Linked DNA regions of Homo sapiens. The protein of the gene in region 3 interacts with the protein of the main gene of each other region in a biochemical or structural test. Each region holds a gene or a part of one and is shown on either strand. Other genes may lie near its edges. The genes, in order: IPCEF1, INAVA and CYTH3.

Region 1 (13,476 bases), on a different chromosome or scaffold from region 3:
ATCCTTGCTCTCAGAGAGCTGACAGTCCAGCTAGAGAGGCAAACTTAAAAACAGGATGGCTCCATAATTTGTGGGATCCAGTTCAAAATGAAAATAGGGGACCTCTTATTCATAAATTATTCAACATTTCAAAAGAGTGACTGCAGAGCATTAAACTAAGCACAGGGCCCTTCTAAGGACCGGGACCTTGAGAATGCATGTCGCATGCCCTGATTCACCATCATTATAATAACACAGGACAATGTGCACTGGAGACATGCACGGGATGCTGGGAGAACAAGGAGGGAGGGGCTAAATCTGAGGGATGGGGAACACTTCACTGAGGAAGTAACATCCTAACATCAGGGCTAAACCTTGAAGGGTGGACCAACTTTTGCTAAACAGGGACAATTGGAGATCCCGGGGGTCTCCAGGGAGGGGGAACTAAGAGGAAAGCCACCTTCTCCTGCTGCAGCTGTCTCCACTCCAAGCTGATCACACAGATCTTGTGTGTTATAATTAACTCCCTGGTTAGTGCTCGTCAGTTACTTGGGTAACTTTTAAAATAATATGGTCCCACTTGTTTCTTGTTTGTGGAGAATCTCAATCAATCCTCAAATTGTAAGTTGGCTCTCAAACCTCTCTTTCCACCTCTCATGTCCCCCAGGGCTCTCCAAAGAAACTTTCCAGATGAAGAGAAATGCTCCATGTCTGTGCTGTGCAAGATGGGAGCTTCTGGACACCAGTGGCTACTGAGCACTCGAACTGTGGCTGGTGCAACCAAGGAACCGAAATTTTTTTTACTTAATTTTTATTTTACTTAATTTTTTTTACTTAATTTTTATTTTACTTTATTCTAATTAGCTAAAGCTTAATTTTTAGTAGCTAGTGGCTGCCATCAGAGTCCAGCATACTTTAACATTTATATTGTCTTAATCTTTTCTCTTTTTTTTTCTTTAAAATATACACAGAGACAGTGTCTCCCTTTGTTGCCCATTCTTGGCTTGAACTCCTGGGCTAAAGCAGTCCTCTTGCCTCAGCCTCCCAAAGATGGGATTACGGGTGCGAGCCACCACACTCTGCCACTTACAGTATCTTCTTGTTTTACATGTTTTCTCCAGATCTTGATCCTCAAAATTGAAAATCAGTTGTGAGTATTGCATTATTATGCCTGTAAAAATTATCCTTAACTTCACAAGCCGAACAGTATAGAGTAATTCCATTCTGTTCCTTTACTGCTTTTATTGTTATTTCTTGATGTTTTCTAATTGTTTTTCTATTTTTCTTTCTTTGGCTGCGCTGCCCATATTGGTTACTCCATAATTTCAGGGGTGGTATCACGCTCTGTGATTCCATTTTCCCCTGAATACTTTGCTTTTGGAAACTTTTCCTCTCTTACCGAGCTCCATGCTGATGTTTGCTGTGTGGTTCAGCTGCCTGATTCCCATCCAAGGATTTCCCTTTGCAACGCTCCCAGGTTGAGTCTTCTGTTTCCCGGATTCCACCACTTCCATTTTTTAGTTTACTCCCTTATTTTGCTGGGGTCCATCATCAAGTAACTTCCTAAGAAGGTATGTGGAGGCTGGGTGCAGTGGCTCATGCCTGTAATCCCAGCACTTTGGGAGGCCGAGATGGGGGGATCACTAAAGGTTGGGAGTGCGAGACCAGCCTGGCTAACATGGTAATACCCTGTCTCTACTAAAAATACAAAAATTAGCCAGGCGTGATGGCAGGCGCCTGTAATCTCAGCTACTTGGGAGGCTGAGGCAGGAGAATCGCTGAACCTGGGGGGCAAAGGTTGCAGTGAGGTGAGATCATGCCACTGCACTCCAGCCTGGGCAACAGAGCAAGACTCTGTCTCAAAAAATAAAAATTAAAAAAAAAAAAAGAAAGGATTTGTGGGCAGTCAGCCTTCTGAGTCAGCTCTGATATATCTGAAAACGGGCATGTTCTACCTTCACACCTAATTGATGGTTTCATTCAGGGATCAGCAACCTACTTTCCACGGGCCGCTTTTGGCTTGCTGCCTATTTTTGCACAGCTGGTAAGTTATGACAGTTTTTTACATTTTTAGGTGCTTAAAAAAATCAAAAGAAGAAGATTTTGTGATGCGTGAAAATTATAGGCAGTTCAAATGTTAGTGGCCCTAGATAAAGTTTTATTAGAGCACAGCTGCTCTTTTACATGTTATCTATGGCTGCTTTGATACCACAATGGCAGGGTTGAGTAATTGAACAGAGATTGGCCCACGAAATCTAAAATATTTACTATCTGGCCTGTTCCAGAAATAGTTTGTCAGCTCCTGGTTTAGTTGGTCAGAGTCAAAAACCCAAGTTCTCACAACGATCCCCATAGGACCTAACCATAATCATGGGTTCCCCGGCTCCCCTCTCCATCTCTGACCCGCTCTGCTCTGTTCCAGCCACACCTGCCCCCATGCTGTTCCTGCGGCACCAAAAGGCTCTGGGGGTGGCAGGATGTTTGCATTTGGGGCTCTGTCTGCGGATTTCTCTTCCCTTAGCTGTCTACACAGCTCACGCCTTCACTTCCTCCAGGCTGTCACTCAGAGGTCACCTTTGTGAGTCCTTTGCTGGCCTCCCCATCTAATTTTTAGCCTCTCCTTAGACTCTATATATTTCCTCTGCTGATTTATTTTTCCTCCTTAGCACTTACTTCTACCTAACACATTATATTTTACTTTCTTTGTTTGTGTAGAGAGTACACCATCCTGATCTGAGCATGAGAAAAGAAGTTCCCTGAGGGCAGGACTTTATTTGGTTCACTGCTGCGTCCTCACTGCCTAGACACAGTGCTCAAAAATATTTGCTGAATGCTATGGCTAGGCTTTGTGTCCCCACCCAAACCTCGTCTTGAATTGTAATCCCCATAATCTCCATGTGTCAAGGGAGACACCAGGTAGAGGAAATTGAATCATGGGGGTGGTTTCCCCCATGCTGTTCTTGTGAGAGTGAGTTCTCATGAGATCTGATGGTTTTATAAGGGGCTCTTACCCCATTACTCAGCACTTCTCTTTCCTGCCACCTTGTGAAGAAGGCGCCTTGCTTCCCTTCACCTTCCACTGTGATTGTAAGTTTCCTGAGGCCTCCCTAGCCATGCTGAATTAAACCTCTTTAATTTATAAGAGTCAATTAAACCTCTTTCCTTTAGAAATTACCCAGTCTCTGGCAGTTCTTTATGGCAGTATGAAAATGGACTAATACACTGGATGAATGAACACAAAATTCTAGAGTGAAATATAAATCCTTCAGAACTTTGAAGGCTGTGCTCGCTGACCTTCTAACCCTTAATGCTACTTCTGTGAAATCTGGAGCCCTTTGATTCCTTGTTTCTGTGAAAGTGACTTATTTTCTGTGTTTGGGAGATTTTAAGATTTTCTCTTTATTTCCGGAGTTTGGAAATTTTGCAGTGACTTGAAATTCTTCATCCTAGGCACTCGATGAGACTTTTTAATCTAAATATTCTTGGACTTCAGGGGGATCCTTTATGTTATTTCTTTGACTATGTCATCAAATAATATTTCCTGAAAATTTCACTTGAATTTATCACCCAACCTATCAAAATCTTTATTTAACAATTATATTTGCAATATCCAAGGGGTCTTTCTTGTTTTCAGATTATCTATCTTTCTTAGCATCCTGTTCTTTTTAATGGATACAATATCTTCAGGACTGTCTCTAAGGATACTGATTAGAAGCATATCTAGGCCAGGCGTGGTGACTCATGCCTGTAATCCCATCACTTTGGGAGGCCAAGGTGCACAGATCACCTGAGGTCAGGAGTTTGAGACCAGTCTGGCCGGCATGGTGAAACACTGTCTCTACTAAAAATACAAAACATAGCTGGGTGTGGTGGCACATATCTGTAATCCTGGCTACTCAGGAGGCTGAGGCAGGAGAATCACTTGAACCCTGGAGGCGGAGGTTGCAGTGAGCCGAGATAATTAATGCCACTGCACTCCAGCCTGGGTGACAGAGCAAGACTCTGTCTCAAAAAAAAAAAAAAAAAAAAAAGCACATCATCCATCATCCAGCACATGCTAGATGAGGCTCTTATTGCCAGAATGTGGAGTTCTGACTGTGGAGTGCTCATATCCACATACAATGCCTGTATTCTCTGCATGATTTCACTATGTGTAGAGACGAATCCTCGGTATGCTGCCCGGGGTTGGAATTGTGTGTGTTTGCTGTGCAGAGGCTGGGCGGACAGAGAGATTTGAAAGAGGGGTATGGGAGGGGCTGAGTTCTTACAGACTTTGAATTACTCTTCCTGTTTTCAGTCCTGTCACCCTATCACTCATTTAGCTCTCTTAGCTTCTTTTGGCTTGAGTTCCGGTCCTCTCAGGGATTCAGCACCGCACACGGGCAATTTCCTCCAACGCCGTGTTCTCCTAACTAATGAGATATTGTGGTTCCCCTGCCTGCCTCCATCTGTTATTGCTCCTCCATCGGCTTTCAGGCTGCCAGAAATCTGTTGTGCTCTCCCAAGTTCTGATGCTTTTCCTCCTTTTTTGGGTTATTGTGGGTTTATATCTTTTTTTTTCTTTTGAGACGGAATCTCGCTCTGTCACCCAGGCTGGAGTGCAGTGGCGCGATCTCAGGTCACTGCAACCTCCGCCTCCCAGGTTCAAACGATTCTCCTGCCTCAGCCTTCTGAGAAGCTGGGATTACAGGCTCGTGCCACCAGGCGTGGCTAATTTTTTGTATTTTTAGTAGAGACAGGTTTCACCATGTTAGCCAGGATGGTCTCGATCTCCTGACCTCATGATCTGCCAGCCTGGGGCTCCCAAAGTGTTGGGATTACAGGTGTGAGCCACCGTGCCCGGCCCTATAAACTTTTTATACTTTTCTCATTTTAACGGAGTCTTTGGGGAGGGAGGGAGCAAATCTGTGGTCAGCCCGTCATCTTGAACTGACAGTCCGGCCGTTTTGAGGATTATTCTAATTCTACAAATCATCTTTGCTCAAAGAATTTAAGTGGCTCTATTCTGGCCCCATAAAGGTAAATAACATGTCTTTTGAGGATATCTTTGATGATGGCATCTAAATGTCTGGTGAGAAGCCAGGCCATGCTGTTGATACCACTAAATTCCTTTAATATCACCTAGTACCATTTTTTTTTCTACGTAAAGCAGGGAACTAGAAGACAACTCAATATAGGGAGAAGATGAGGCAGCACTTCCAGAAATAGAAGTGTACACAAACAAGAAGCCGCTGAGAGAACCTTCATTTTGTTCCTGCTCAAAATGTACAGCATCTTCTTTCATTTTTTCACTCCTCCACAGATTTAGTTTACATTTTATCTTTGTCTTAGTCATTCAGGCTGTTATATCAAAACACCGTAGCCTGGGTGGCTTACAAACAAAAGACATTTATTTCTCACAGTTCTGGAGGCTGGACATCCAAGATCAAGGCGCCAGCAGATTCATTGTCTGGTGAGGACCTGCTTCCTCGTTCCTAGGTGACTGTCTTCTGGCCATGTCCTCATATGGTGGAGGGGTGGGCAGATCTCCAGGTTCTCTTTAATAAGAAAATTAATACCATTCATGAGGGCACTGTCCTCATGACCTAATCACTCCCCAAAGGTCCACCTCTAAATACAATCACATTGGGGATTAGGTTTCTATATATTCTATATATTCTATATATATATATATATATATATATATATATTTTATATATATATTATATATATATATTTTATATATATATTATATATATATATTTTATATATATATTATATATATATATTTTATATATATATATATTTTATATATATATTTTATATATATATTATATATATTATATATATTTTATATATATATTATATATATTATATATATTTTATATATATAATATATATATTTTATATATTATATATATATAATATATATAATATATATATTATATATATAATATATATATAATATATATATTATATATAATATATATATAATATATATATAATATATATATTATATATATATATTATATATATATATACACATACATATTTATTTATTTATTTATTTTGAGTTGGAGTCTTGCTCTGTCTCCTAGTCTGGAGTTCAGTGGTGCGATCTCGGCTCACTGCAACCTCTGCCTCCCAGGTTCAAGCAATTCTCCTGCCTCAGCCTCCTGAGTGGTTGGGATTACAGGCATCTGCCACCACGCCCAGCTGTATTCATTTCCCTAGAAGGTATAGAGAAACAAGAAGCTGGTGTTGAAAGGGAGATTGGGAGGGCAGGAATTTGTAATGAGATGGAATATCTCTGACTTTCAGCCTGCCATTTTCCTTTTCCAATGTGGGAAAGAAAAGTTTTGTGGTTAGAGACTCTTCTATGTCTACTGCAAAAGATGGCAGGCTAAGACTTATTTTTATCCTAAAATACGTTTTACAAATGTGTCTGTACCCTCTCTTTATTAGAGCATTATGAACGATTAGGAAAGGAGGAAAGAGGGAAATCTGAAAGAAGATTGAACCTAAAGAGGTTGAAGTGGCATTTCACCCAAAAATGCTGAGAATGACTCTGCAGATCATCTCACCCTCCATGCCTGTAAATGAACATCCTTGCCTCCAAAACAGGAAAGCAGAACCATGAACTGTTCCACCAATGTGCTCGGCAAATGAATACACTGGGCAGTGCTTAGTGATCAATGAACTCAGGCAGATGGGGTGTGCTTGCCTTACATGTACTGTGTCCTGGATATGGGCATCAAGGAAGGGTTTCATAACAATGAGAAGGAAGAACGTTAGGATTGAGGAAGTGGAGATGATACTTCCTCTTCTTTCGAAAGAGCTTTACTCTCTGATCAGCTTTGAATGTTAGTTCTGGGTTGACTGAGTTTCCAGAGCTGAGGCTGCTTTAAGTAGAATCCTCAAGCTTGGCCTCAGAGTACTATGAGGCTTCTGAATCCAGGAATAAGACTGCTCTTGGATTTACTCTCTTTGTATTGCATGTAAGTAACGTCACTTCTTGGCTGATGTATGAGAGGTAACTGCTTGACAGATCAAGATGGCAAAGCAATGGATACCCTAGCACTCTCCTTAGAGTAGTGAGGTAGGAAATATGACTTTGGGGATGTAATATTCACTCAGCTCTCTGTAATCTGGGAAGCCAGGTGCTAAAGATTCTTTAATTCTGTGAAAGCTTTGAAAGAGGAGAGAGTTGTGTACTCACTCTGCTTTTATGTTTCTTAAATGGGTGTTGTCTTGATAGGTGTTTAGACTGCAGACCACAGGTTTGATTTAGAAAAGCACAATTCAGCATGTATTTGGGTCCTGAGGAGTTCATTTGGGGAAGCACTCTGGGGCCGCCCTCTTTCGAGAAAGTGTGTTCTTTGCAAGGGAGCTTCCTTTGCATGGAGGCAGCTGGGGGACATTTTACACTTTGATAAAGGTCTCAGGCTTGCCAAAATATCTCTGGTATAAAAATGAAAGCTAGGTGTTGTTGGTTCAGAGTCTTTTAGTAAGGGTGTCTGGGGCACTTGATTTTTCTTTGCTGGGGTATATGTGAAAGTATTTAATTATAGAAGTCAGAATTATAACCCACTGAAGCATCTTTGACTACAGCAGTGGGCTCTATTAGTCTTGAGTGGCCTATGTGTTCCTAGTGCTGTCCTTGATAAAGTCTAATTTCTATCGAGTTATTTATTTTATGTAGAAAATTGAAACCGAGGGCTGGGCACAATGGCTCACACCTGTAATCCCAGTACTTTGGGTGACCACGGCGAGAGGATCACTTGAGGTCAGGAGTTTGAGACCAGCCTGGGGGCAAAATAATGAGACCTCATCTCTACAGGAAGAAAAAAAAAAAGAAAGAAAAGAAAATAGAAAATAGAATGCCGGGTGCGGTGGCTCACGCTTGTAATCCCAGCACTTTGGGAGCCCAAGGCGGGTGGATCATCTGAGGTCAGGAGTTCGAGACCAGCCTGGCCAACATGATGAAACCCCGTCTCTACTAAAAATACAAAAATTAACTGGGCGTGGGAGCATGCACCTGTAATCCCAGCTACCTGGGAAGCTGAGGCAGGAGAATTGCTTGAACCCGGGAAGCGGAGGTTGCAGTGAGCTGAGATTGCGCCACTGCACTTCAGCCTGGGTGACAGAGCAAGAGTTCATCTCAAAAAAAAAAAAGAAAGAAAGAAAGAAAAGAAACAGAAATGGAAAGAACACACATTTCTTTCTGCTCACATCATGCAAGCAAGGAAGAAAAGGGTGTAAGTTTGTGTATGTGTTGATGAACTCATTCTTTAATTTACCTTATAATTTCCTTCCATTCCTCTTTTTATAAATCAAGTGTCTTTTCTGGAGTGGGTCCATGTATGAACTATTTCAGGCAAGCTGTGTTAAGCAAATATACATCATCAGAGTATGGAAATAGGAAGTTCTTTCCTGCGGTAGTTTGCTGTGGCAATAAGAGATAAGAAATTACTTCATCACTATTGCCTGAGACTTTCCTTTTGACTCGTGCATCCTTTTGAACAGCTCACTTCTGCTTTCCATCCAGCTTGGAGGCTCTGCAGTGTGAGCTGATAATTGCAGTACAGGTTAACAATTTGCAAGTAGGTCTAATGTGGCAAATGGTGTGTGTGTGTGTGTGTGTGTGTGTGTGTGTGTGTGTGTGTGTGTGTGAAGAAAAATCCTAAAAAATAAGCTTTTTAGCCTTAAAGAGAATCCTGCAAATGGAGGAGTTACTTGTGCTCCCAAGTGCTCAGAACAGTGCCTGCTCTCAGTAAATATTTGTTGAATGAATGAATAACTGGCATAATTCATAAAATGAATGTGGTAGGAAAGCCATTGCTTTATCTCTGTTACTCAGGCACTTTAAAAAGTGAATGTTAGAAAAGATCAGAGTGGAGGAGGAGAGGAGAATATGAAGGTGTGGAGTAAAGAAAGGGTGTGTAGAACGGGGATCAGAAAAATCCCCAGGTCAGTAAAGTGAAAGGGTTGGCGATACATGGTGGTGGAGGTGGAGGTGGAGATAAAGGGGGTGGTGTTGGAAGTGGTGGTCGTAGGGGAGGTGATGGTGGAAGTGACGGTGGAGATGGTAGAGGTGGTTGTGGAGGCGATGGTGGAGGTGGTAATGGAGATGGTAGAAATGGTGATTGGAGTGGTAGAGGTGATGGTGGAAGTGACGGTAGAGATGGTGGAGGTGGTTGTGGAGGAGATGGTGGAGGTGGTGGTGGAGGAGATGGTGGAGGTGGTGGTGGAGGTGGTGGTGGAGATGGTGGTTGGAGGTGACGGTGGAGGTGACAGATGGTAGAAGTGATGGTAGACATGGTGGAGATGGTTGAGGAAGTGATGGTAGAGGTGATGGTACAGATGGCGGAGATGGTGGTTGGAGGTGATGGTAGTAGAGGTAATGGTGGAGGTAATCATGGGAAGGTCAGTATAATTTAGCCAAGAGAAAACACAGTTGGGGGCTCAGACATATCTGTTCAAAATCTATATCTCTGAACCTACCAGCTCTGTGACCTCCGAACCTATAAAGTGGTGACTATAACATATTGACTTTTTGGGTTGTTGTGTGAGGGTTAAAAATATGATTGCATTAAATGGCAGTTATCGATATCAGTTTTCAAGTTGCCAGAGCCACGCTTAAAAATTTAATCTCTAATTTCTCTTTTTTTCTTTATGCTTTGTGCATTTTCTGAATTTTGTAAAGTGAAAGTGAGTTTTTAAAAGAATCATTAATTTAAAATAAATATGATAAGCCTAGTTATCAGAATGGTTGAACACATGGTGGTATATAAAGAAATGTCATCAAGAAAATGATATTTATGGAAATAGTCTCATGATGTAATGCTAAGTCCAAAAAGGAGGAACATAACTTTTTCAACTATGTAAAAATACTGCAGAGAAGCAAGATTTGGGTGAAATGCATTAAAATGTTAATATATGAGTAGTGGGCTTATAGCTCGTGGTTCTTCTTTCTTTGTACTTTGTACTCTATTTTCTTCCCAGATTTTTCATTAGTGGAACATACCTGAACTATTTTAATAATCTGAAAATAAAACAAACGTTGAAAGAAAGTAAATAGGCCCGGGTGCGGTGGCTCTCATGCCTGTAATCCCAGGACTTTGGGAGGCCAAGGCGGGCGGATCACCTGAGGTCAGGAGTTCCAAACCACTCTGGCCAACATGGCGAAACCCTGTTTCTACCAAAAATACAAAAATTAGCTGGGCATGGTGCGGGCGCACGTAATCCCAGCTACTCAAGAGGCTGAGGCACAAGAACCACTTGAATCCGGGAGGCGCAGTGAGCCGAGATCACGCAGCTGCACTCCAGCCTGGGCAATGAGGGAGACTTCATCTCAAAAAAAAAAAAAAAAAAAAGGAAAAGGAAAAGAAAAGAAATGGACAAAAATGTAACCCTCCTTAAATCTTCCACCAACAGGACGACAAAAGCAATGTTTTAGTGATAGTGTGCTGAAGTTCATGGTTCATTGCAGTCTAAGAAATGACACTTAAAATTTATGTTATTTAGTCTTTGTAGGGAAATCCCCTTTGAGAGTAAGGCTGGTGCAGAATCATGTGTCAACTCTGAAGTGAGAAAAAGGAAACGTGGTCCCACTGGGGCTGGCTGGTCTGATTAATTCCTAGAATGACATGAAAATGGGTTATTTTCTCTGGATGACTTATAACTGCGTCTAAACCTGAGTTTGATGATTTCCTAAAAAATGCAATAGTCAATTTGTCAGTTATTAATTATAAGTTAAATTTAAATCTCCCAATATAATTGTTAATACATTTCTTAGGGAATGTTGCCATATGTTTATCATCTTGGTACTCATAGGGAGAGGTCATAAAAACATTTCTATAGAGTCACAGATTATTTTATAGATTCAAGAATTATCATTCCTGTTGTTAGAATCTTGGCCCTGCCGTCTCACAGGGCCAGCAGGTCACCATGGAGTCCCTTATCAGGGACGTAACCAAAATAAAATATTTTGGCTTGTAGGCATTGAAAAGAATCTTCTGTCTTTGTCTTAGAATCAATCTTTGTCTTAGAAAGGAGAGATAGTCGGCAGACAAAAAGGCAAAGGGCTGAACAAATGTGAGCAAAGACAGGTCTCCCAGACTGACACAGGGATTGACATAGAAGCAGCTGAAAGGTGAAAAGTGAGCCAGCTTAAACTCAGCCCAAAGTTACTAGAATGTGGATGAGTCTTTCAAAAGAAGTCTGAATAAAAAAATGACCAGATCGTCAAGGAAAACTAAGTCAAGTTAGAAATGAAAGAATTAATTGAAGAAACAAAAACCCAGCATGCACTAAGCATTGAAATAGAAACAGCAGCAAGATAGGATTCCCAACAGATTCTATAGCATTTTCTGAATATTTCATACGTGGAATGCTGAATAAAAAACCAATGATATTACTGAGCACTTGCTAGGTTCTAGACACTGTGATCTGCACTTTTATTTTTACCTTTTAGTTTACATTTACATTTAGTTACATTTACAATTTCTTTTTTTTTTTCTTCAACTTTTACTTTACGTTCCAGTGTGCATGTGCAGGATATGCAGGTTTGTTACATAGGTAAATGTGTGCCATGGTGGTTTGCTGCATAGATCAACTCATCACCTAGGTGTGAAGCCCAGCATCCATTAGCTTATTCTTCCTGATGCTCTCCCTCTCCCCCGGCCCTCACAGGCCTCAGTGTGTGTTTTTCCGCTCCCTATGTCCATGTGTTCTCATTGTTCAGCTCCCACTTGTAAGTGAGAACATGCGGTATTTGGTTTCTTGTTCCTGCGTTAGTTTGCTGAGGATAATGGCTTCCAGCTCCATCCATGTCCCTGCAAAGGACATGATCTTGTTCCTTTTTATGCTATTTAAGCCACTTCTTAAAACAGTTCTGGGAAATAGTACTATTGTTATCTCCATGAAATTGAAGCTTAGAGAGGTAAAGTCCCCTGCCTCAAACCACCACAATAGGCAGGGGAGAGGGATTCAAACCCAGACCTTTGTGTCTCTGAGCCTGTGGTCTACCATTCTACACATTACATTGTTTTCATTTATGTTAAAGGTTTTGTTATATAAATAGTGATTTGACACCAAGGGCGAGTCTGAGCAGAGCAGATTTGCTCTCTACTTTAAAATCGCCCAAGTGAAATTCTTTTCTATTCCTTAGTGAAGAGATAGTGGAAAGGAGTTGTTCTTTTTTCCAGGAAACTGCCTGTGCCTTGACATGATTGCACATCCGTGATTGTCTTCTTAGGCAGTCAGGTGGTACCACGTAGGAAATGCTTCCAGCCAGCAGGGAACAAAAGGGGACTGGGGGGACCTCAGAACCATTCCTGGGTAGTTCACAACCACAGTCAAGATATGTGACTGTTCCGTCACCACAAAGATCCCTCATGCTGCTCTTTCATAACAATACCCAATCTAATTTTAAAATATTCAATTTCCATTTTGAGTATCATTGGACCCATATTGATGGGGCCTTCTATTAGGCTCAATTTTTTAGCGGGAACACCGCAGATCAAAAGGCTAGGAGACTTGAGTGTCCTGCCTGTAGTATATGATAGTTTTGCGCTACAAGCAAGCATTTAACTTCTCCACGCTTGAGTTGTCTCATCTATAAAAGCTGAGATAAAAATACCAAACCAGGCCAGGTGGGGTGGTTGATGCCTGTAATCCTAGCACTTTGGGAAGCGGAGTTGGGAGGATCGCTTGATGCCAGGAGTTGAAGACCCACTGGGCAATAAAGCAAGATCCCATCTCTACAAAAACAAAAAAATGTGGCCAGGTGTGGTGATGTGTGCCTGTAATCCCAGCTACTCAGGAGGCTGAGGCAGAAGGATCTCTTGAGCATAGGAGTTTGAAGCTGCAGTGAGCTATGATTGTGCCACTGGTGTACAGCCTGGGCAGCAGAGTAAGACTCTGTCTCTGAAAAAATAAAAAAACTAACCAATTGCGTTGATGTATGGGCCAAATGAAAGTAAGCGTATATACTTAGAAGAAAACAAAAATATTATAAACCAATGGAGCCCTTCTTGGAAGCTAATACAGGAGGTAAAGAATGAAAGTAATTTTATGTGCTAGTAATAAGCCCATCTGTATTGCTGGCAAGCACTTCTAGGGGCCAAATTGGACGTGACTCATTTCTATGAAGTTAACTTGTGGCATTGGGCCTCAAACAGTAGAGTCACTTCATCATTGAATGGGAGTGAATAAAGACACTCTCAACAATGAGACACATTTACAAAATGAAAATCAGGCTATTGTGAAATCTATAAAAGATTTTCTTTCATAAATGGAGTCTAGATAGTGATCCCAGATTATCATGACAATTTGGTTACTTGTTAGATATGGAACATCAGCGTCTATTTGGGGGGGATATTTATTTACCTCAGTTTGTATTGAAATAAAAGTTCAAATATTCTGAAAATGATGCAATGTGATGGAACTTTGATCCAAATATAAAATCTAAGGCTGCAATTTAAGTGTACAGCAAGTGGAAACTTCTCAATAAAT
Region 2 (9,931 bases), on a different chromosome or scaffold from region 3:
ATGTGAGTTTCTGCTTAAGGACACCTTACTTAATATGGGTTGTTGATTCATTAACTCATGGCCAACAGCACTGTAACTCATACCCAGATGAAGCTTACCTAGCACACATATTTTCTCCACAAGGCACACCACAGCCTTTTCCCAGTATGCCTTAGGGAGGAACAGTAGACAGCACTTTGGCACTGTATTTGGGGGCATTTTAAACAGCAGAATCACTAATCAAAGCAAAAACACACACAGTACATAAATATGCCACAAAAAGGACACTGTGCACTTACAGCATGAGAACTGAAACATGAGGGCAGAACATGGCCTCGTTTAACCTCAGAACTTAAAGAGACTCAAATTTGTCACTTTTCTGCAGTGTCCAAGAATGACCATGAAAGCACTGTGTATATTGCTTTGGGGATTAAAAATAAAGTTTAGCAACTAGGAAAATTACAAATACTGAATCTGCAAATAATGAGAATTGACTGTATGTTACTTTCTAAGTCATCTGCTACTTGGTAATAGTTTAAATGGCTAAGCGTTGACAGGCAGTATTGGCCATACCATATGGGGACTGGGGCACCATGAAAGCACTGCTGAATTCTCCATCAGCTTAAATTGGCTGGTCAGGCAGCACTGAACTGGGGGCAGCTTGGGACAACTGCTCTCAAGTAAAGCAATGGATTTTGTTTAATTTTTAAATTTTTTTTGAGGCAGAGTCTTGCTCTGTCATCCAGCCTAGAGTATAGTGGCGCAATCTTTGCTCACTGCAACCTCCGCCTCTCAGGTTCAAGCGATTCTCCTGCCTCAGCCTCCTGAGTAGCTAGGATTACAGGCGTCCGCCACCACACAGCAATAGATTTTATATTTTACATGCTACGAGGGCCATTTTACAAACCATGCCTTTGTGCAAATTAGGAAAAGGCAGACACAGCCCCATACCTGGGTGCATTAGTAGAGTGAAGTGAAGGCTGGATTTCAGCCCCTGCCGGTCTTGGGCTGCAGGTAACTGCTCTGGGTACCACATGACAGCTTTTACACGTTCAAGTAAGGTACCTGGCAGTGCCTACCGAACAGATGCTGTGGATGATCTGCCACTGGACACGGTGTACCTAAGCTGAAAGTACTTAATGTAGTACTTTAAAAAAAGTAGTTAATGTAGTACTTTAAAAAAAGTAGTTAATGTAGTACTTTAAAAAAAGTACTTAATGTAGTACTTTAAAAAAGTACTTAATGTAGTACTTTAAAAAAAGTACTTAATGTAGTACTTTAAAAAAAGTACTTAATGTGCTACTTGATGTAGCACACTTTACACGAATCACAAGCTTGTGAATGCAGCAGGAACACTTTTGCACACAGGGAAGGAATGCGTTGGCACCCACGCAGCCCGGCAGAGGGTTTGTTGGTTTGCTTTGGGAGACTTGACCTAAGACCCTTGCACGAGGGCCATGCTTGGGCCTTGAGGTAGAGCAGGACTCACCTGTTTTAACTCCACCTCCCGCCCCAACCCCAGTGTGGAGTTTCTGCCCCCCACACTCAGAATGCCTCTCTTTCCCTCTTCAGGGTGGATTCCTTCCGGGCGGGTCCTGAGGGCCGAGGTCGCAGCGCCTTTCCCCGCCGCCGCCCCACTCACTACACGGTGACAGTGCCAGATTCCTGCTTTCCCGCGACCAAGCCCCCGCTGCCCCACGCCGCCTGCCACTCCTGCTCAGAAGACAGTGGCTCTGACGTCTCCAGCATCTCCCACCCCACTTCGCCGGGCAGCAGCAGCCCCGACATCTCCTTTCTGCAGCCTCTCTCCCCTCCCAAGACCCATCGTCACCGCGGGGCCTGGGTCCCAGCCGGCAGCAGAGAGCTGGTCGCCCACCACCCCAAGCTACTGCTGCCGCCTGGCTATTTCCCGGCGGGGCGGTACGTGGTGGTGGCTGAGAGCCCCCTGCCGCCTGGCGAGTGGGAGCTGCGCCGCGCAGCCCCGGGCCCTGCTTACGAGGAGGAGGGCACTCCCCTGCGCTACCAGCGTCTGGTGCCCTCCCGCAGCCGCATCGTGCGGACGCCCTCCCTGAAGGACAGCCCGGCAGGCCGGGGGCTCAGCAAGGCCGCCGTGTCCGAGGAGCTCAAGTGGTGGCACGAGCGTGCACGCCTCCGGAGCACCCGCCCCCACTCACTGGACCGCCAAGGAGCTTTCCGGGTCAGGAGCCTGCCCCTTGGGAGAGAGGGCTTCGGACGAGCCCTGGGACCCCGGGCACAGGTACGGCTGCTCTGGAGGGACCCCGGGGCCAGGCAGGAGGGCTGTTTTGTTGGGGAGGGGCTGCAATTCTAGTATGTCCAAGGGTACAGAGGCATCAAAGCAGCAACCTAGTGGCCGGGTAATCCCCGTCTAGGAAGAACAGGCCAAAAAATCATTTCCTCTTGGCTTTGGAAGGCACTCTTGGCTTCCCTGGGGCACCTCCTAATTTTGCCTGCCATGTCTAGCTCAAGAGCATATACACTGGTGGAGATGATCCCCGAAGATAGCTGAGACTTTTTCTCTCCCTAAATGATGATGCACAAAGCAGATAAGCCTCTTCATAATCAAAAGTCCAGTCCAAATCAGCCCCTCAGATTTCCATTTGAAGGTCTAGGACAAAGGGAGAGTAGGAAATGAGTTGCAGAAGCCAGAACCTGTGATTTTCTGGGCATCAGCATCCTCCCTGACACCCCTCCTCACCACCAAGCCGAGAAGAAGGGTGGCATCAGAGTTAAGAGCACCCACCCTCAAGCTAGACCACCAGGTTCAAATCCCAGTTCTGCCACTTACGAGCTGTATGATTGGGCAAGTTACTTAACCCCTTTGGACCTAGTGTTTCCTCCCCTGTGAAATGAGAGTAGTAGAGTACCTATCTCATAGGGCTGCCAAGAGGCTGAAATGATTAGAGCAATGCATGGTAAGCGCTAGATATGTGATATTATTATCATCTGGGGCCACAGAGGCCAGGGAGCAGGCTGGAGGGTAGTATATAGGATAGAGCACCCTGACACTGGGTAGGGTGGCAGCCTTGGTTTCCTTGGCCCCTATTTCTTCATTCTGGAAGTGGGGAGCCACACACAGGAATCCTTTCTTTATTCTTTCTCCCTGGTACGGAGGGCTCTGCAGGTGATGTGCTCCAGAAGTTACCAACAAGCTGCTTCTTTGAGACCCCAGATTCCCAGCAGACCCAGCTGCGTGTCCCTCCCCCACCCACGGTTCTTTGGACTGCAGCTGGCATCCTGGGCCTGGCAGCACCCTGGCCCCGGTCCGAGGCCGCGCCCTCCAGCTGACGTGCTTTTCCCTTTCTGCGCGCTTGGGCCTGTCCTTGGCTGGATAGACCCAGCCCATCCCAACGTGCCAGACAGGGAGGGTGATGAGAAGTGAGCCCAGGAAAGGTGGGGGAGGAGGAGGTCAGGGCGCCTGTCACACCCCAAAAGAACATGGAGGAAAATGTGTAAAGGGGGTCCCTGAAGAACAGAGAGCATCCTGGGAGGAAGGGGCTGAGTGCCAGGGCCTGCTGCTGCTGCTGCTTCTGCTGGTCAGTGTCCCTAAGGGATAAGGATGGTGTAACTGTGCCTGCTGTCCCCGCTTTTCTGCCTGGTTCATTTACCCACCTGTCCTTTCTTCCTGACCCTGGCAGGTGCCCACAGTTTGTGTGCTGCGGAGATCGCCTGATGGGGCCCCTGTGCAAGTCTTTGTACCTGAAAAAGGAGAGATCATCAGCCAGGTGTAACTCTGCGCCCCACGCTGGAAAAAACTGTTTCATAGAGGGGCTGGGCTGAGACCCCCCCACCCCTGAGTGCCTCTTTCAGCTCCCCCATCCCCATCGCAGGCCGATGACCTGGAGCTGAGACCTTTTATTATTTTTTTTTTACACGACTTTTTTCAGAAGCCCTGACCTAAGGATTTATATATGTGGATTGTCCTCAATACCCCTGTGATATGATTATGTTTTATCCCCCAGAGTTTGGCCTACTGGACTTAAGGCCTTGCCTGTCTGACTGACAGCCTCTATCTCCTTATATAAGACAAGTGGCAGGGGACGAGTGAAGCAGAGTGAGCCACCTTGGGAGTTCTCCAACGCTCTGTGCTCTGGTTCTAAGAAATTCCCTGGGGAACTGCCCCTGGCCCTCCTGTCCCACTATTGCTGGAGGCTGGACATGGTACATACTCATGCACATGACTCTCCCCCATTTCCCAGGTCTCTGGGTACCCCAGCCTGGGCTGGGGGAGAATCTCTTCCCCCTTTTCTAATGTGCTCTGTGATGCACACACCAAGTGGTAGGTCAAAGGTCAGTATATCCCGGTGGTGTATTGTCTTGCTAGACCCTGCTATTTTCCTGACCCCCTAAATCCTCTTTAGGGACCCAGTCACTATACCCTGTCTATGCCCTGTGGGCTCCCAGACCCCTGAGCTTTGAGTCAGTGGCATCACAGTTTGTAGCCTCAGGGGGTCTGGCTGGGGGCTGGTCCATGCTTGTGGTTAGTGGACAGCAGCCACCCTTTGACAGCTACCTCTGGGCATCTCAAGGGCTTGCAGCCCCACTGCTCCTTCTAACATTTTGTTTGTTTTTGAGATGGAGTCTCGCTCTGTCGCCCAGGCTGGAATGCTGTAGCAAGATTTCGGCTCACTGCAACCCCCGTCTCCCGGGTTCAAGCGAATCTCCTGCCTCAGCCTTCCGAGTAGCTGGGATTACAGGCAAGCACCACCATGCCTGCTAATTTTTTATTTTTAGTAGAGATGGGGTTTCATCATGTTGGCCAGGCTGGTCTCGAACTCCTGACCTCAAGTGATCCACCTGCCTTGGCCTTTCAAAGTGCTGGGATTACAGGCATGAGCCACCGCACCTGGCCCTTCTAACGTTTTTTCATCATAGTCCCAAAAACCAATACTTTACAAGTGGTTTTGGAAAGGCACCACTTTTGTGGCATGTTCTGGTTGGGAGAGGGAGTCACAGTTCCTACTCCCCCCACCAGCTATGCTTCTGCTCTGAGAAGGTGGTTATTTATACAAACATGGACATACTCACTCCCAAGGGCTGATGAGATGCTGAATTTTCTTTGGGGGCATTCATTAATTGTCCCAGCTGCAGCGACTGGAGCAAGTCTGGAAGCTGCCTGTGCTAAGACCACCCAGCTGTCCCTGGGTTCTCATCCTAGGGCCTTCTTTGCTTCCAGGTCAGGGGACCTGCTTCAATGAGAAAGCAACTGAATTGAGGCTAGGAGAGGTAGGGAGAGCTGAGTTCTGACTTCACCTGTGCAGAACTCTCTGCCCCCATGTTACCTGGACTGGAACAGACTGTGAATATAGCAGAAGGTTCCAAGAACTCTGGTGTCTGACCTAGAAGAGGCACAGTTCTCTCTACTGGAAAGAAAACGATGTAGCCGATTGCACAAGGGTGCCAAGGGAAGACCCAGGATGGCCCATCAAAGGAACCTGGGGGAGGATGCAGGAGGCTGAAGGGATGCACCTGGCATTTCTCTCACTGTGCTCTTACCGCATCAGCAACCCCCAACTTTTGGGCCTACTCTGCCCCCCATGCGTGAATACCCTGCTTGGATGCTGTGCTTTTCCGGTTTGTCTCTAAGCCCCTTTCTCCAGGGCATGTTGGTTTCCCTGGCCTCTCAGTGTCCTAACTGGAGCCCAGAGTGCCTTGTTCTGAGCCAGGAGACGGCTGAGCACTGGCCCTCCACACCTAAGCGTCCTTTACATTAACTTATTGGTCTTGTATAACACCTGGTGCCATTGCCAAGTGGCTGTGTCCTCAGCTACAGAGCTGGAATTGTGTGGGGTTTAGTGCTAAATACTTCAATAAAGTCTGTTTTTTGTGATTGGCTGAGCTGGGGATGAGGGATTTTTTATTTTTATTTATTTTTATTTTTTGGTGTGTGTGTGTGTGTGTGTGTGTGTGTGTGTGCGCGCGCGCGCGCGCCAGGTTTCCCCGAGCAGAGGCTGAGCCCGGCCCCCTGGGCTGCCCGCCAAGGTGGCCAAGTTGCCCGGCCCCTCCAGCTGGTCTGGCCAGGTCCCTGGGGAGCTGGTGTGATGGGTTGGGTGGTAGAGGGAGGCTCTCAGATTCTCTGCTTCCGGGGCAGGGTGGAAGCCAGCACAACCCCTGTCAAGGCTCCTTACAGCCTCTTCAGCTTGAGGAGCTGGCCTGTGGGAGTCACTTCCCCAAGGACAGGGCACTGGCCAGGCAGAGGGTAGAGATGGGTGGCTCAGCGCCTCCAAGCCATTCCTGGAGCTTTGACTGCCCGGAGCCCAGGCTCATGAGAAACAGCCCCTTCCCCATACCTGGAAGACTGGGACCCCTCCTTGGGGTGGTGAGGAGGCGGGGCTCTCCGCAGGCCCCTCCCCCATCGGCAAGAGTGCCCACAGCCCCTCCGCTGCCTGGGGTCCCACTGAGGCCAGGGGCGGGGAGCGCCACCTTGGACACTTCCGTGCTTGCCCTGCAGGGACCGCTCCAGGGCCCCGGAGCACAGCGCCCCCTGGAGAGGCTGTGCCCGGACCTGAGGCGCCGGCGTGTCAGGTAAAGGGGTCCCCCTTCCCGCCAGTTCCCTCCACAGCCAAGGAAGGGGCGGGGAAGGGCCCCGGCCCTCGCTGCCCAAGGGGCGCCTCCAGCCTTGCCTGGGTGCGGCCCTGGGGGCCGCGGGGATCTGTGGGCCTCAGGGGTCTGGGGCACTCCATTCTTGGGGAAGGTAGGGGAGGGGAGACGGCTCCAGGGTCTCTGGAGAAGTTGTGGGGTATCCTGATCTCAGACCTGAGCGCTTCGACCTATTATTTGTGGGGAATGGGGCGCTGGATTCTGTATTTTAGACGATGGTGAGTTAGGCCCGGGGAAAACAGGGTGAGCAAGTTCCCAGGGGATGACCTGTCCAAGGGGCAGCTCCCAACAACAGGACAGAGACCAGCTAAGAGGGGGGATACAAAAGAGACGGACACAGGGGCAGAGCAAGGCCCTTTAAGGCAGTGAGCGATGGGACGCGCCCGTTTGGGGACCCGAAGTGCAGGGCGGTGAGAGAACCAGGTTGCACAGCAGTTTCTTCCTGGTCCACCAGCAGGCTTCCCTGGGCCATGTCTGGGAGGGGCAGACATGTGGGGGCTCTTAGCTCCCCTACCATAGGGCAGAAGTAAGGTTATGAATTAGGGGGTGGGGACAGAAGCCTCTGGGAAGAGGGGACCTCGGGATTTTAGCAGCAAGACTCCCAGAGGCAATTTGGCCTGGAGGCAGAGGGATGGCCACTGTGACCTAGGAGCCCACCTGTGAGTCTGAGATTCTCTATGCTGGAAGATCCCAGAATGGAAGACTACTAGGCAAATCAGGAGGGACCAGGGCCCTTCAGAGGGTCCCGAATCTTCCCATGGGGAAGAAATGGGAAGCTGACCCTGGAACCCGGCACTGGCCCTACTCAACCAATTCCTTTTGTGGTAAATGGGCAGGGTCTGCCTCCTGCAGCTTCCCCCTGGAGTGAGTGCAGAGGCTGTATCCCTAGGAAGGAGTATCTTACACCAGGCCTGCCCACTGTTCTCATCGCAAGCTGCAGGCTGCTGCCCCAAGTGTACAGATGAATCCGAGTTCTAACAAGCGAAAACCAAACAGAGTAACCTTTGAACCATCGACATTACAAATCTCTTGGAAGTCCAGCTTACCGGGTGAGCAGTTGGTTCTGTCTCTCAATTAACTGTGGGTGCTCAGAAGTGGTGGTGATTGCACAAGCCCTCGCTTGAGGTGTACCTAATGGGCACACATCTGCCCACTTCTGGCTACCCCTGTCACAGCTCTAGTCTCTGCATGCCTGTGCTTTTTCAGGCCTGCCTCCCTGAGAAGCCTGGAGCTGAGCCAGGAACAAGACATTGCCTGAGACTTTCAGTGACACCTCCTCTAGCTGACAGCTGTTCAGGAGAGCCAGAACGCTCTCTCTCTCTCTCTCTCTCTCTCTCTCTCTCTCTCTCTATATATATATATATATATATATATATATATAATTTTTTTTTCTTTTGAGACATGGTCGCATTCTGTCACCCAGGCTAGAACGCAGTGGCACCATCATACCTCTCTGCAGAGGTATGACCTGGGCTCAAGCAGTCCTCCCACCTCAGCCTCCCAAGTAGCTGGGAGTACAGGTGCGTGCCACCATGTCCAGCTAATTTTTGGTTATTTGTAGAGATGAGGTCTCACTATGTTGCCCAGGCTGTTCTCGAACTCCTGGGCTTAAGTGATTCTCCTACTTTGGCCTACCAAAGTGCTAGGATTACAGGCATGAGCCACTGCACCCAGGCAGAGAAATCTTTAGATAACATCTACATGCCAACAATTCCCAAATTGGTATCTGCAGTCCAGATCTGCAGTTCTGGAATTCCAGGCTCTTACATCCGACTGCCTATTGATATCTCCACTTTGATGCCTAGTAGACATCTCAAAATTAATATATTCCAAACTGAACTCTTAACTTTATTCCCAACTGCAAATTTGTTCTGTTCCCCACATCAGTTAATGGGAACTCAATCTTTCCAGTGTCTCAAGGCCAAAATTCTTGACTTCTCTCTCTCATACTCACATCTAGCCATCAACTATTCCTATTGGTTCTACCCTCAACATGGATACAGAATCTGATCATTTGCATCTAACCACCTCCCTTGGTGTGAACCACCGTCTCACCTCTGTATTATTGTCATAACCTCCCAGTTGGTCTCTTGCTTCTGCCCACACCCCATGCCATTCTCCACCTCTACTCCTGATCTATTCTCAGCTGAACAGCCAGAGTGCTGTTGTTAATCAAAGTCAGACCACTTTTATTCAAAACCTGCCCAGGGCTCCTGTCCCCAGAGCCAATTGTCTTTACAATAAGCTACGAGTCCCTCATGATCTGCCCCATTACTGCTTTACCTTCACCTCCCACCACTCTTCCCTGCTCCTCCCATTCCAGACACCCAGGCTTCCTTGCTGTTCCTTGAGCTTTCCAGGCACGATCCTGCCTCTGGGCCTTCACACTTGCTGTTGCCTTGGCTTAGAATGCTTTCTTACCAGATATATAAATGGCTTGCCATTCACGTTCTTCAAGCCCACTTAAATTCAATGAGATTTTCTTTGACCTCTGTGTATATACAAACCCAAATGGGCAAATACAAAATAAAAATTCTTTTAGAAGGGTAGTTCCTATGAAGGAACTCCCTGGTGTGTAAGAAGCTCTGTGACAGCAAAGATTATTGTCTCTTTTGTTCCCTGATGTGTCTAGGAGAGTCCTTTTACATAGTAGGTGCTCAATAAATGTATGCTAAAGAATGCACTCATTGATTTCCTACTATATGCCAGGAAGCATTCTAATTTTTTTTCACATATTAATTTATTTAAATCCACAACAATAATAGATACTGTGATGATCATCCCCAGGTTAAGATGTCAGAACTGAAGCTTGGGGGATTTTAGTTTGCTCAAGGTCACTTCTTACATGTATTAAGACTCATTGTTCATTTAATCCTCAAATAATAACAGATAGTATCATCTTCCCTGTCATACAGATGGGGAAGGTAAAGTTGACAGAGTTTAATTTGCTGGAGATCACAGAGCTGATGAAGCAGAGGAGCTGAACTTGGAACTCATGCAGTTTGGTGCCAGGGTCATTGTGTGCAGCTCCCGTGCTTTGGGTCCAAGTCCTATTCTGAGAGGCTTTTCTTGCAGGGCAGTGTGAGAGGGCAGCAGCAACTTGAACTCAGGCCTGTGTCCCATGCTGCTTTGGAGCCCAGTGGTGTCACCAGCTCCTTCCTCTTGCTTTACCTTCTCCCGACTTCACTTGGGGCAAACAGGCTGTATTCCTGGCCTCAACCCTCAGGCTCAGAGAGGCATGCCCTGAAGGCTGTGCCAGTCTAGTTGGCAAAGAAGCCTCCCAGGCTGACTTGGGGTTTCAAGTCCATTCGCAATCAAAACTTTCAAAGTCAGT
Region 3 (8,934 bases):
TCAAATGCTGCTTAATTACAGACTCAGGTCGATTACTTGTATTTCATGTAATGTTCCTCCAAGTTAGACATCTGGTGCAAGACCAACCGGGAGACCATGGAATTGTCAAAAGTACAAACTGACAGTGTGTATATTTAATTTAAAGACTTATTTAAAAACTCACAAGCTCTCACCTAGACTTTGGAGAGCAGTCTGTTTTCTGTAATGTCTGATACTAGAAACTAATTTGCTTATTTTAGTTGTATTCAAGATTTGAAGATGTATTTTATAGACAAGTTCTGTTTTTGAACTTTGTGGAACTGTTCCAATCAATCAATTTCCCAGTTATGATGAGTATTTACATTATGAATGTATAACCCAGACATGATTTGTAAAGCCGACAGTATGTTTCTATTACACAACACTTTTTGATACAGCGTCTCTTGTCTTCACTGATACTGGAGTCTCCGTTGTCTGCTTGGTCCCTTCGAGTTTCTAGTTACAGACACAATCATACTGTGATTTTATTTTTAATATGGATATGCTATCAAACTGTGATACACTTATAATTCACTGGTCCTGCATCAGGAGATGGAGTGGGGAAAACTGTATTTAATACAGTTTGTATCTGAATAATCTGTATGGTTTATACAGTTTGTGTTGTTCAGAGATGTTTAAAGTTTGATCTTTGTTTTTCTAAAGATTAAAAAAGCACTTGCCCCACTGTAAATATACAGCATGTAAAATTTCTATAGTATATAAATGGCAGCAAATCACACACTTGGCGTCTTTTTACTGTTGTTTTCCCCATTTGCTTCCAGACTCCTTCCTGTCATCATCTGAATTCACTTTCTTAAAACCTTCAAGTAAGTGCTCCTGCCGAAGTCGGCACCTTCGGCCAGGCCATCCCACCTCGGACGGGCAAAGGAAAATTGGAGGGGTGTTTGCTGGACCCAACAATATCTGTTTTAAAGAACCAAGTCTTAGGCTTGTTTTAACAATACATGTGATTTTTATTTAGTGAACACAGTATCTGCAAGAGCTCTGACAGCCATCCACCCTCCAATCTTACTTCACTTTACAACCAAGTATCAATAGAGGCTGTTCCTTCATGCGAGCTGTGGGAGTATATACATCATTGAATAACAGACACTCCAGAAATCAACAGATGTACATTATTTACATATTACTATATTTACCGCAAATAGAAATATTTTCTAAGAAAAAAAGTCAATTTGTGGTTTCTGGTCTACCACAGACCTAACTTCTCAGCAAAGCATATCTATGTAGATATCTGCGTTTGTAACTTTAAAAATAGGCATTGCTTTCTATGAAGCACTAAGTGCTGCTCCATCTATAAATAGCTCCTATTTTCAGTTTGGTACCACATTAAACTGCCCCAAAATGTTCTGTGACCCCAAAGACACAAAGTTGCTGCTTATCTGGGTCCAGGGTCAGTACAATTAAACTCAAATATGAACCAGGGCGGCCAGCAAGACAGGCTGGAAGGGCTGTGGCAGTCGCCGCCGCCTCCCCGCGGGGCTCCCCTCACTGCCTCCTGGCCTCTGTCTCTGGAAAAAAGTATCTTTGGCCAGAGTTGGGACTAACAATTCAAGCCCTGCGCTCAGACGTCAGGGTGGGGAGGAGGAGGACTGTGATTGTGACGCGGCCTGCCCAGGGTGAGGGACAAAAAACAGATGTGTCCTGTTTCAGGGCCGTCCTGGTAGCGGCTGGCCCTGCGCAGTCACTGACCCAGAGTTTTCTGGACCAGGCCTGCCTCAAGGATCAGCAGGCATGATGGTCGCACAGCCTTCATGCTAATACTGTCCTAACACAGCCTGGAGCTAGGCGATTTCCTTTGACCACAAAGTACCTGGAGTCTAACTCAGCACCACAGCCTCTGCATGGCTCCCAGGTGCCCACCACCTGGCGAAGCTCATTCACAGATGACAGCAAAGGGGGAGCTTGATCATCTGGCGACTCCTTCCTGCTGCTTCTCCCAACACCCAAAACAGAAAGCTCTGCATCCCCAGGTCACACCTGGGTTGGTCAGAAGAAGGAAACAGCTTGTCCGAGCACAACATGCTGACAGAGCTGGCTGTGGCCAGTCTTGGGTGCCGGGCCAGCCTGAGGGGTGGGCACCGCCGGAGCCGGCCGTCAGTGTGTGGTCTGGGTGGGGGTCCAGGCAGCATTTATTTTCATGGAAGACTGGAGGCCAGAGTTGCATATCTACCAGTCAGGCATTTCAAGAACGCTGACTTGCCTTTCTCAGAACTAAAACTTCCGATTTGAGGTATCAGTAACAAAGCCTAAGAACGTGGGAATGAAAGTCTGATGCAGGACAGGGGTTTCTGGCCTCGGACCCCTCTGCAGTCTAGTGTGACTTAAAGCTACATCAAGGTCAGCCGCAGGGAGGCGAAGGGCCCGCAGCCGCTCGGCCTCCACTTCAAGGCAACTCAAAGAACAGTCTCCGCTGCTGAGAAGGAAACCTAGGTGCACAAAGTCTGAGGTTTTGTCTCTGGACTGGGCATTTTGCACAGGAGTACAGATGCCCTCCAGAGGGTGCAGATTCAAGGTGTGTGTGCCTATGCAGGTGGGGCAGGAAGAGGAAGTCCATAGAGGAAAAGCCAGCCACCAACCCAACAGCCCACTGTGTAACAGGGTCCTGGGGACGCAAATCTCCCGACAGAGAACAGCGTCTGCCACCGGCCCGGGTCGGCCCAAGCACACAATGCCCCCGGTCCAGCCCTGAGCCCTCTCTGTAGGTGGGGCCCAGATCCAGCCTTCCTTGAGCGGAGCACTGGGCACCTCCTATCCTTACATCCACAGCAACCTGACAACCTCCCAGGCGGGCGTGGAGTTTGACCAGTTCCACCACCGGCGTCTATCTGGGTTCTCTACGTGCCGGGCCTCTGCACCCCAGGGCCTGTTCTTCCCTCCTCGTAGGGAGGGCACCTCTCTCAGGACACGGCGCACTACATGGGGTGAGACTGTTTTTAGTTAATTCTGTGTCTATTCATTAAGAAATCTGGTCAAATTAGAAAGTCTGTAAAATAAGCGTTCATTTTGCCACAGGTTTTAAATAGCGATGAATATGGTCAAAAGCCGGTCTAACCTGCTGACCTGTATGAAACGCTGCCATGTGTGTGCATCTAAACAAAACATCAGCAGTTTCACGTGGCTCAGCGTATGGACCATCTGTGTCCAGGGAAAAGGCTGTTTCCTAGGAGTTAGCAGTTACAGCCTAAACACCCCCAAACCATTAACTGTTATAATTTTAATGATTTGCTTAAAGTATTTGTGGGGCCAAAAAGCCTGGTTGAAGGGAGGCCTCATGGGAGTCACCCTGGAGCCCCCAAGTGCCATGGCCGTCCCTCCCCCAGCCCGTCCCGAGCCCACCTGCTGCCCCCCGGGGCTTGTCTGACAGCCTGACAGGGCAGGGCTGCACGCTGCCCCCGTGCCGGTGCCCCCAGCCCTCCCCTTGGGTGCTGTGTAGATGGATATTTTTTCAGTGCACAGTATATACTTGTGTCCAGGAGTTAACTTTATAGCTGCCATTCTAAAAATACTACTGTTAGAAAGTATCTTTTGTTATAATTTCAGAATATAAAAAGGCATATAAAAGCTATAATCCTATATATCTGAGAAAAATTCTGAATAAAAAACTGGTAGCTTTTCCTTTCCTGTTTTGCTATAAAACAGTGGCTTTCTAGAACGGTTAATACTGCCCCGAGTGAATGCGTTTGGCATGGTACGAATGAGGCTCCCGTCTGTGGAATCCGTCCCGTGTCTGCTGTGGAGACAGCGGAAGCTGCTGTCCTGGCTTCTCCCCCTAGGGGCGCCGGGATGGTCGCAGGAAGGAAATGCTTCTGGACATGCGCAGCCGACCATGACCCCAGCCACGGCAGGAGGCCTCGAGGATCAGTCTGGGCCACGGTACGCTCTGGAGCAGCAGCTTGCACTGCAGGGCGACCACCTCCCAGGACCCCAGCCACGGCACGAGGCCTTGGGGATACCACCTGGGCCACGGTATGCTCTGGAGCAGCAGCTTGCACCGCAGGGCGACTGCCTCCCTGCCACGCCTTCCGCGGAGGGGCCGCCCGCGGTGTCTTTCTGCTGGGGTTGGGTCTTTTACCTGGGTCTTTTAGCCAGGAAAGCTATTTTTTATTGGCAATCCTTCGTTTCCTCGTTGCCAACATGTCATAGAAGGGATCTCTGCTGATACTGGCTCTGGTGAAAAAAGGAAAACACACAGGTTAGGTCGTGGGTGACACACAGACCTCCCCTTTCCCACCAGCCCCAGAGGCCCCTCAGACAGGACCGCAGGCTCAGATCTGAACGTCGGCTTTGGCAGCCCGGCCCTCTGGGGTTTCTGGAGACAGAAGGTCCACTCTTGCACACGGAAGCATCCATGTTCCAGACCATCCCCCGCCCTCCAACCGGCACGAGAAGACGGGCCTGGCCCCGCCCCCGAGGCCCCACTCACTTGATGGATTTCATCCACTCCTCCTTCTCCTCCGGGCTCGGGGCTGAGATCCGGTACACCACATGGTTCCCCTCTACCACGCGGCCGTCGGCCTCAGTCTTACAGGCCTTGATGACCTGCCCTTTGTGGCTGGGATTGTAGAGCTCAAAACAGTTCTGGTGGAGAAAGAGAGAGGGGAGGCGGTCAGGGGGGCTTGGGGCAGGTTCCCTGCAGGCAGTGAGGATGGCTCCCAGGTGGCTGGCAGGAGAGAAGGTTCAGGAGGAAGAGCTTACGGGTTTCCGGGGGTCCTCCACCTCCCTGATGCTGAGGTTTTCCAACGGGATGATTCCCCTGGGCTCCTTATCCTACAAGAGGAAAGTACACGGCGGGGCTCACTGTGGGTCACCAGCCTGAGGGTCCCTCGGCCCCAGGGCAGCTCCGGGACTGCTGGGAGGCGGCAAGGAGGCCTGGCCCTTACTTACTGTTGTGTATTCAAAGTAATAGAGGCAGTTATCGGTCAGGATGAACCACCGGCGCTTCCAGGTCTTCACACGCCCTCCTAGAAGCAGAAGGGCCCCGTGAGTCTGCGCTCCGTGCACAGGGAGCCCGCGGGTCCAAGAGGGGGCCCTGGACCTGCACAGACCACTGCGTTTTCAGAAAGGCCACCAGGCGCCAGGCTTGGGTTCAGGTGTCCTTCAGCGTTCCCACCGCAGGGCCCCACATGCACCCACCCCGCCCACACCGGCGCCCCCTCCACGGCACTGATGGGCCCCTTGATGACACAACCGCGCTACAATTCGCTTCCTGGGAGAGTTAGTGGGATGGATGGCGTCATTTTCCCACATGAGATGGCAGTGTGATGAAGTCAGGACTGCGCGCCTGGCTCTGTCCAGGACCTGACCCCACCATGTCAGGTGGTTATCGCATTACAGAGGCCCTTGGGCAGCCCTGGGATCCATCAAAATCAGTCACCCCTGGGCCCAAGGAATCGTGAGACTGAATTAATTTTGTAACAAGATCTGGAGCACACGTGCACACGCACGTACCCCCATCTGTACCTGCCCTCCTCTCCCTAAGGGAAGGAAATCTCTGATCCTTAAACACTGAGCAGAGACAAACTGACTTCAGCTGCTATAGCCTTGCCGGTGTTTGTTTTTTAAATAATTCAAAGAAATACACGCTGGTGACAATGAACTCAAGTGCTCCCTGGGGTACTAGGCCCTCTCTGCCCCATGCCTCTCCAGCGCTGCGGAGCTCACCCGGCTTTCTCTGTGACAGGCCGGCAGGGGAGTAGCCCTCCCTCCCTAAGTGGGGGCCAGCACGGGCGCTGAGGCCTGGAGGCAAGACTGTGTGCGAAGGGCTCTGTGGATGGATCACCAGGACACAGGGGGCTTTCCCTGTTGGGGCCTGGTTTGCAGAGACCCTGGGTGAGGAGGAACCAGCTGCAGGTGGGAGGAAGCCTGGCTCAGCGGAACTGGAGGCCGGAAGCGGGTCTCTGCAGTCCCTCTGGGACCCTCTGGCCCCTGCCTCACTCAGTGCTGCCGTCCTCCTTTGATGCCTAAGGCAGCCTGCAATGCGGTTGCCACCGCCAGCCTGGAACAGGAGCCCAGCCTCCAGCTGTTCCTCCTCTCCCCACAGGCCCCAGTCTCATCAGTGTCCCACCAGCCTACCTGTTAAAGGGTCTGTCTAGACCCTGGTCTGGGCAAATCTGCCCCCAAGCTCTCTGCTGCATCTCCCCAGCCCTCAGACCCTGCCCCCAACATCTCTCCTGAGCCCTGGCGGGGCTTCCACTCCCCGAACCCCTGCAAGCTGCTCCGTCACTGGAACCCTCTGCCCCAACTGTGGCACCGCCTCACTGGTCCCCTTTAAGACCCAGCCAGGCCCACAGCAAGGCCCAAAGTCCTTGTTGCCCTCGTGTCCCTGTCTCACCGCGGGCTCCATGCTCTCTGCAAGCCCTTGGCCTTCACCTTCCCCACCTCCACTGCAGCACACCAGGGAGGCCCAAGTCCACAGGGGAGGGCAGGAGACCCTGGGGGCAACCTGCCTTGTCCCACAGTCCTCCAGTGAGCAGTGAGAGGTGTTCTATGTCCCCGAGACCCTAGGGACAGGAGGACAGTGCTGATTCCTTCCAGGCACTTGCTCCAGCTTGAACTGCTGTGGCAGAATCAGCTGACAGCAACTCCACTACCCTGACATCCGTCACTGTCACGGTCGCCTCTGCTTCCCTCCAGAGACTCCAGAGCAGGCCCCGCTCCAGCTGCACTGGTGCCAGCTGCCATCCCCCAAACAGCGGCCAAAGGCATCTTTTCAAAAACGTGGCAATCATGCCCCTCCGGCTTGAAGCCCCCCAAAGGGTCCCACTGCACTCAGCTTTAAACCCAACTCCTTGGGCGGCAGCAGGGGCTGCCCTTCCTGGCTCCCCAGCTGTGGCCTTTCTCCCTGCCCTGTTATCTGAGTCTCCAGTTCTTGGGGAGCTCATCCAGGAGCCCCCAGGTTGTGTGTTTCTGTCCAGCGCCTGCTCTCTTCCTCCACGCTCCCAGCATGGTGGACAGCAAAGGACCTGTATGTTCCACTAGCCCACACACCTGGCCCCGCCTGGGAGGGGTCTGCCAGGTGGCCTCTCAGCTCCACCTTGGGTCCCCCGCTCACACCTCCCATGCAGAGCCCCATCCCTGTCCAGTCCTCAGGGCCAGGGGGTCGTTGCAGACCAGGACTGCAGGCCCAGGGAAGGGGTGATAAGCTTGGTCTCAGAGCCGAGCAGGCTCTGCTCACACTTGTTTCTGGCCACACCACACAGCATTCTCGCCTGCAGACAAGAGCCTGGCTTCTGGAACCTGCAGATGGGAGCCACTTTCTCTCTGTAAGTTTCTGTCTTCATTGCCGTTAGCAGGCAGGCGCGTACGTGCACACACAGGTCCACATGCACACACTTTCTGTATGGCAGCTCGGATTGGGCCACCTCCTAGGATTTTTTTTTTTTTTTTTTTTCTGGTGATTGATTCAAGACTCGAAGTCTTAAGTTACCAACAATCGTAAGCCACGCCTGTGTACACAGCAGGGCTCCTACGCTCTGGCAAAGCATCCAGGCCTTTTTAAGACCACCTGTTCTAAAAGCAAATCTACAATAAGAATGCAACCAAGCCAGGCCGCACTCCCCGCTGAGCACACGCCTGGAAGCACGTTCTAGATCCTGCACCCATCTCGTCTGCCTCCAGCCAGGGCCCTGGCTCGCCAGCCTTTGGTCTCGAACTTTGTTTCTGAGAACACAGCAGACATACAGGGTGCTGGGAGAGGACAAGGAAGCCAGCCCCTAGAGCAGCAGGTGCTCACCGGGCCGCCCACCACACTGAGGCCACGCCAGCTGGACCAGCCCCTCCAGGGCCCCTGCGCTTGGCACCCGGCGCCCAGCCAGCTCTTGGTTCCCGTGAGCACTGTGTGCACTCATTTCATGGCCTGTTTATCTGCCCAACCAGAAAACAGGTTAGACAACACGAGCTCTGCTGTGCCTTCATTTCATTCACACACTTACGTCTCTAGAGCCGACCTTTCCCTGGTGGCAGGGGTCACATTGGCTGCCAGGCAGGCTGATGGCGTCACTGTCCCTCGAGGGGACACTGGTGGGCAACGCAGGAACCAGAAGGGAGGCATCTAATCAAACGAACATCCCACTTATCCCGGCCCCAGAGTGCCTGCCGGCATTTCCGGTTACATTCCCCCCCACCGGCCCTCACTCTAGAACACTCGCACAATGTGATTTGAATCGGGTCTCTCAGGCACCCGAGCCAAAGACCATGGTACTAGGTTTTCAGGCAAATATCTACAACTCCCCTAAACCTCGGTACAGCCAGAAAAAAGTCAAAGAGCAATGGCCAAGGTCAAAGACCCTAATGGGAATGGCAGACCTGTGGGACTCACACCCTTTCCACCAGCTGAGGAGGCCTGTGCCCGTCACACCGTGTCTCACCCTTCCTTGATGTTTATTTTTTTGAGACGAGGTCTCACTCTGTCGCCGAGGTGGGAGAGCAGTGGCACAGTCATGGTTCATTGGAGCCTCAACCTCCTGGGCTCAGGCCATCCTCCTGCCTCAGCCTCCCTAGTAGCTGGGACTACAGGCACACACCATCACGCCAGGCTAATTTTTTGTAAAGATGGGGTTTCACTATATTGCCCAGGTGGTCTGAAGCTCCTGGCCTAAGCAATCCTCCCACCTCAGCCTCCCAAAGCACTAGGATTACACACATGAGCCACTGCACCCGGCTGATAAAATTTTTAAAAAATCACCAGGATGCTCCACTCCATGTCTCACGTGCTGCCCAGCGGCCGCCTGCTCTCAGAAAGGCTTGCGTGAACCCAGCTACCGCATCTCGCCCGCTTCACTGTGGGCATAAGGCAACCATCCCCGCCCCGCAGGCAAAACAACCCCTCAGCATTTCTAAAACTGCCCGTAATTGCCCTAAATTGCTCCAAAGGCCTTTAGAGCACTCCCGAAA

What was found.
Region 1: the proteins of CYTH3 (region 3) and IPCEF1 form a complex in vitro, tested with the Homo sapiens proteins (one study listed by BioGRID).
Region 2: the proteins of CYTH3 (region 3) and INAVA form a complex in vitro, tested with the Homo sapiens proteins (one study listed by BioGRID).

Annotation. Positions count from the first base shown.
Region 1 is NC_000006.12:154,350,152-154,363,627, reverse strand, and holds the start of IPCEF1 (interactor protein for cytohesin exchange factors 1), read left to right. Parts: upstream 1-6,824; 5' UTR 6,825-6,956; intron 6,957-8,487; exon of another isoform or gene 8,488-8,561; intron 8,562-13,476. UniProt on the Homo sapiens protein: Enhances the promotion of guanine-nucleotide exchange by PSCD2 on ARF6 in a concentration-dependent manner.
Region 2 is NC_000001.11:200,909,902-200,919,832, forward strand, and holds the end of INAVA (innate immunity activator protein), read left to right. Parts: intron 1-1,551; coding exon 1,552-2,236; intron 2,237-3,635; coding exon 3,636-3,728; 3' UTR 3,729-5,841; downstream 5,842-9,931. UniProt on the Homo sapiens protein: Expressed in peripheral macrophages and intestinal myeloid-derived cells, is required for optimal PRR (pattern recognition receptor)-induced signaling, cytokine secretion, and bacterial clearance.
Region 3 is NC_000007.14:6,160,808-6,169,741, forward strand, and holds the end of CYTH3 (cytohesin-3), read right to left. Parts: intron 5,004-8,934; coding exon 4,927-5,003; intron 4,810-4,926; coding exon 4,738-4,809; intron 4,621-4,737; coding exon 4,466-4,620; intron 4,210-4,465; coding exon 4,137-4,209; 3' UTR 972-4,136; downstream 1-971. UniProt on the Homo sapiens protein: Promotes guanine-nucleotide exchange on ARF1 and ARF6. Promotes the activation of ARF factors through replacement of GDP with GTP. Plays a role in the epithelial polarization.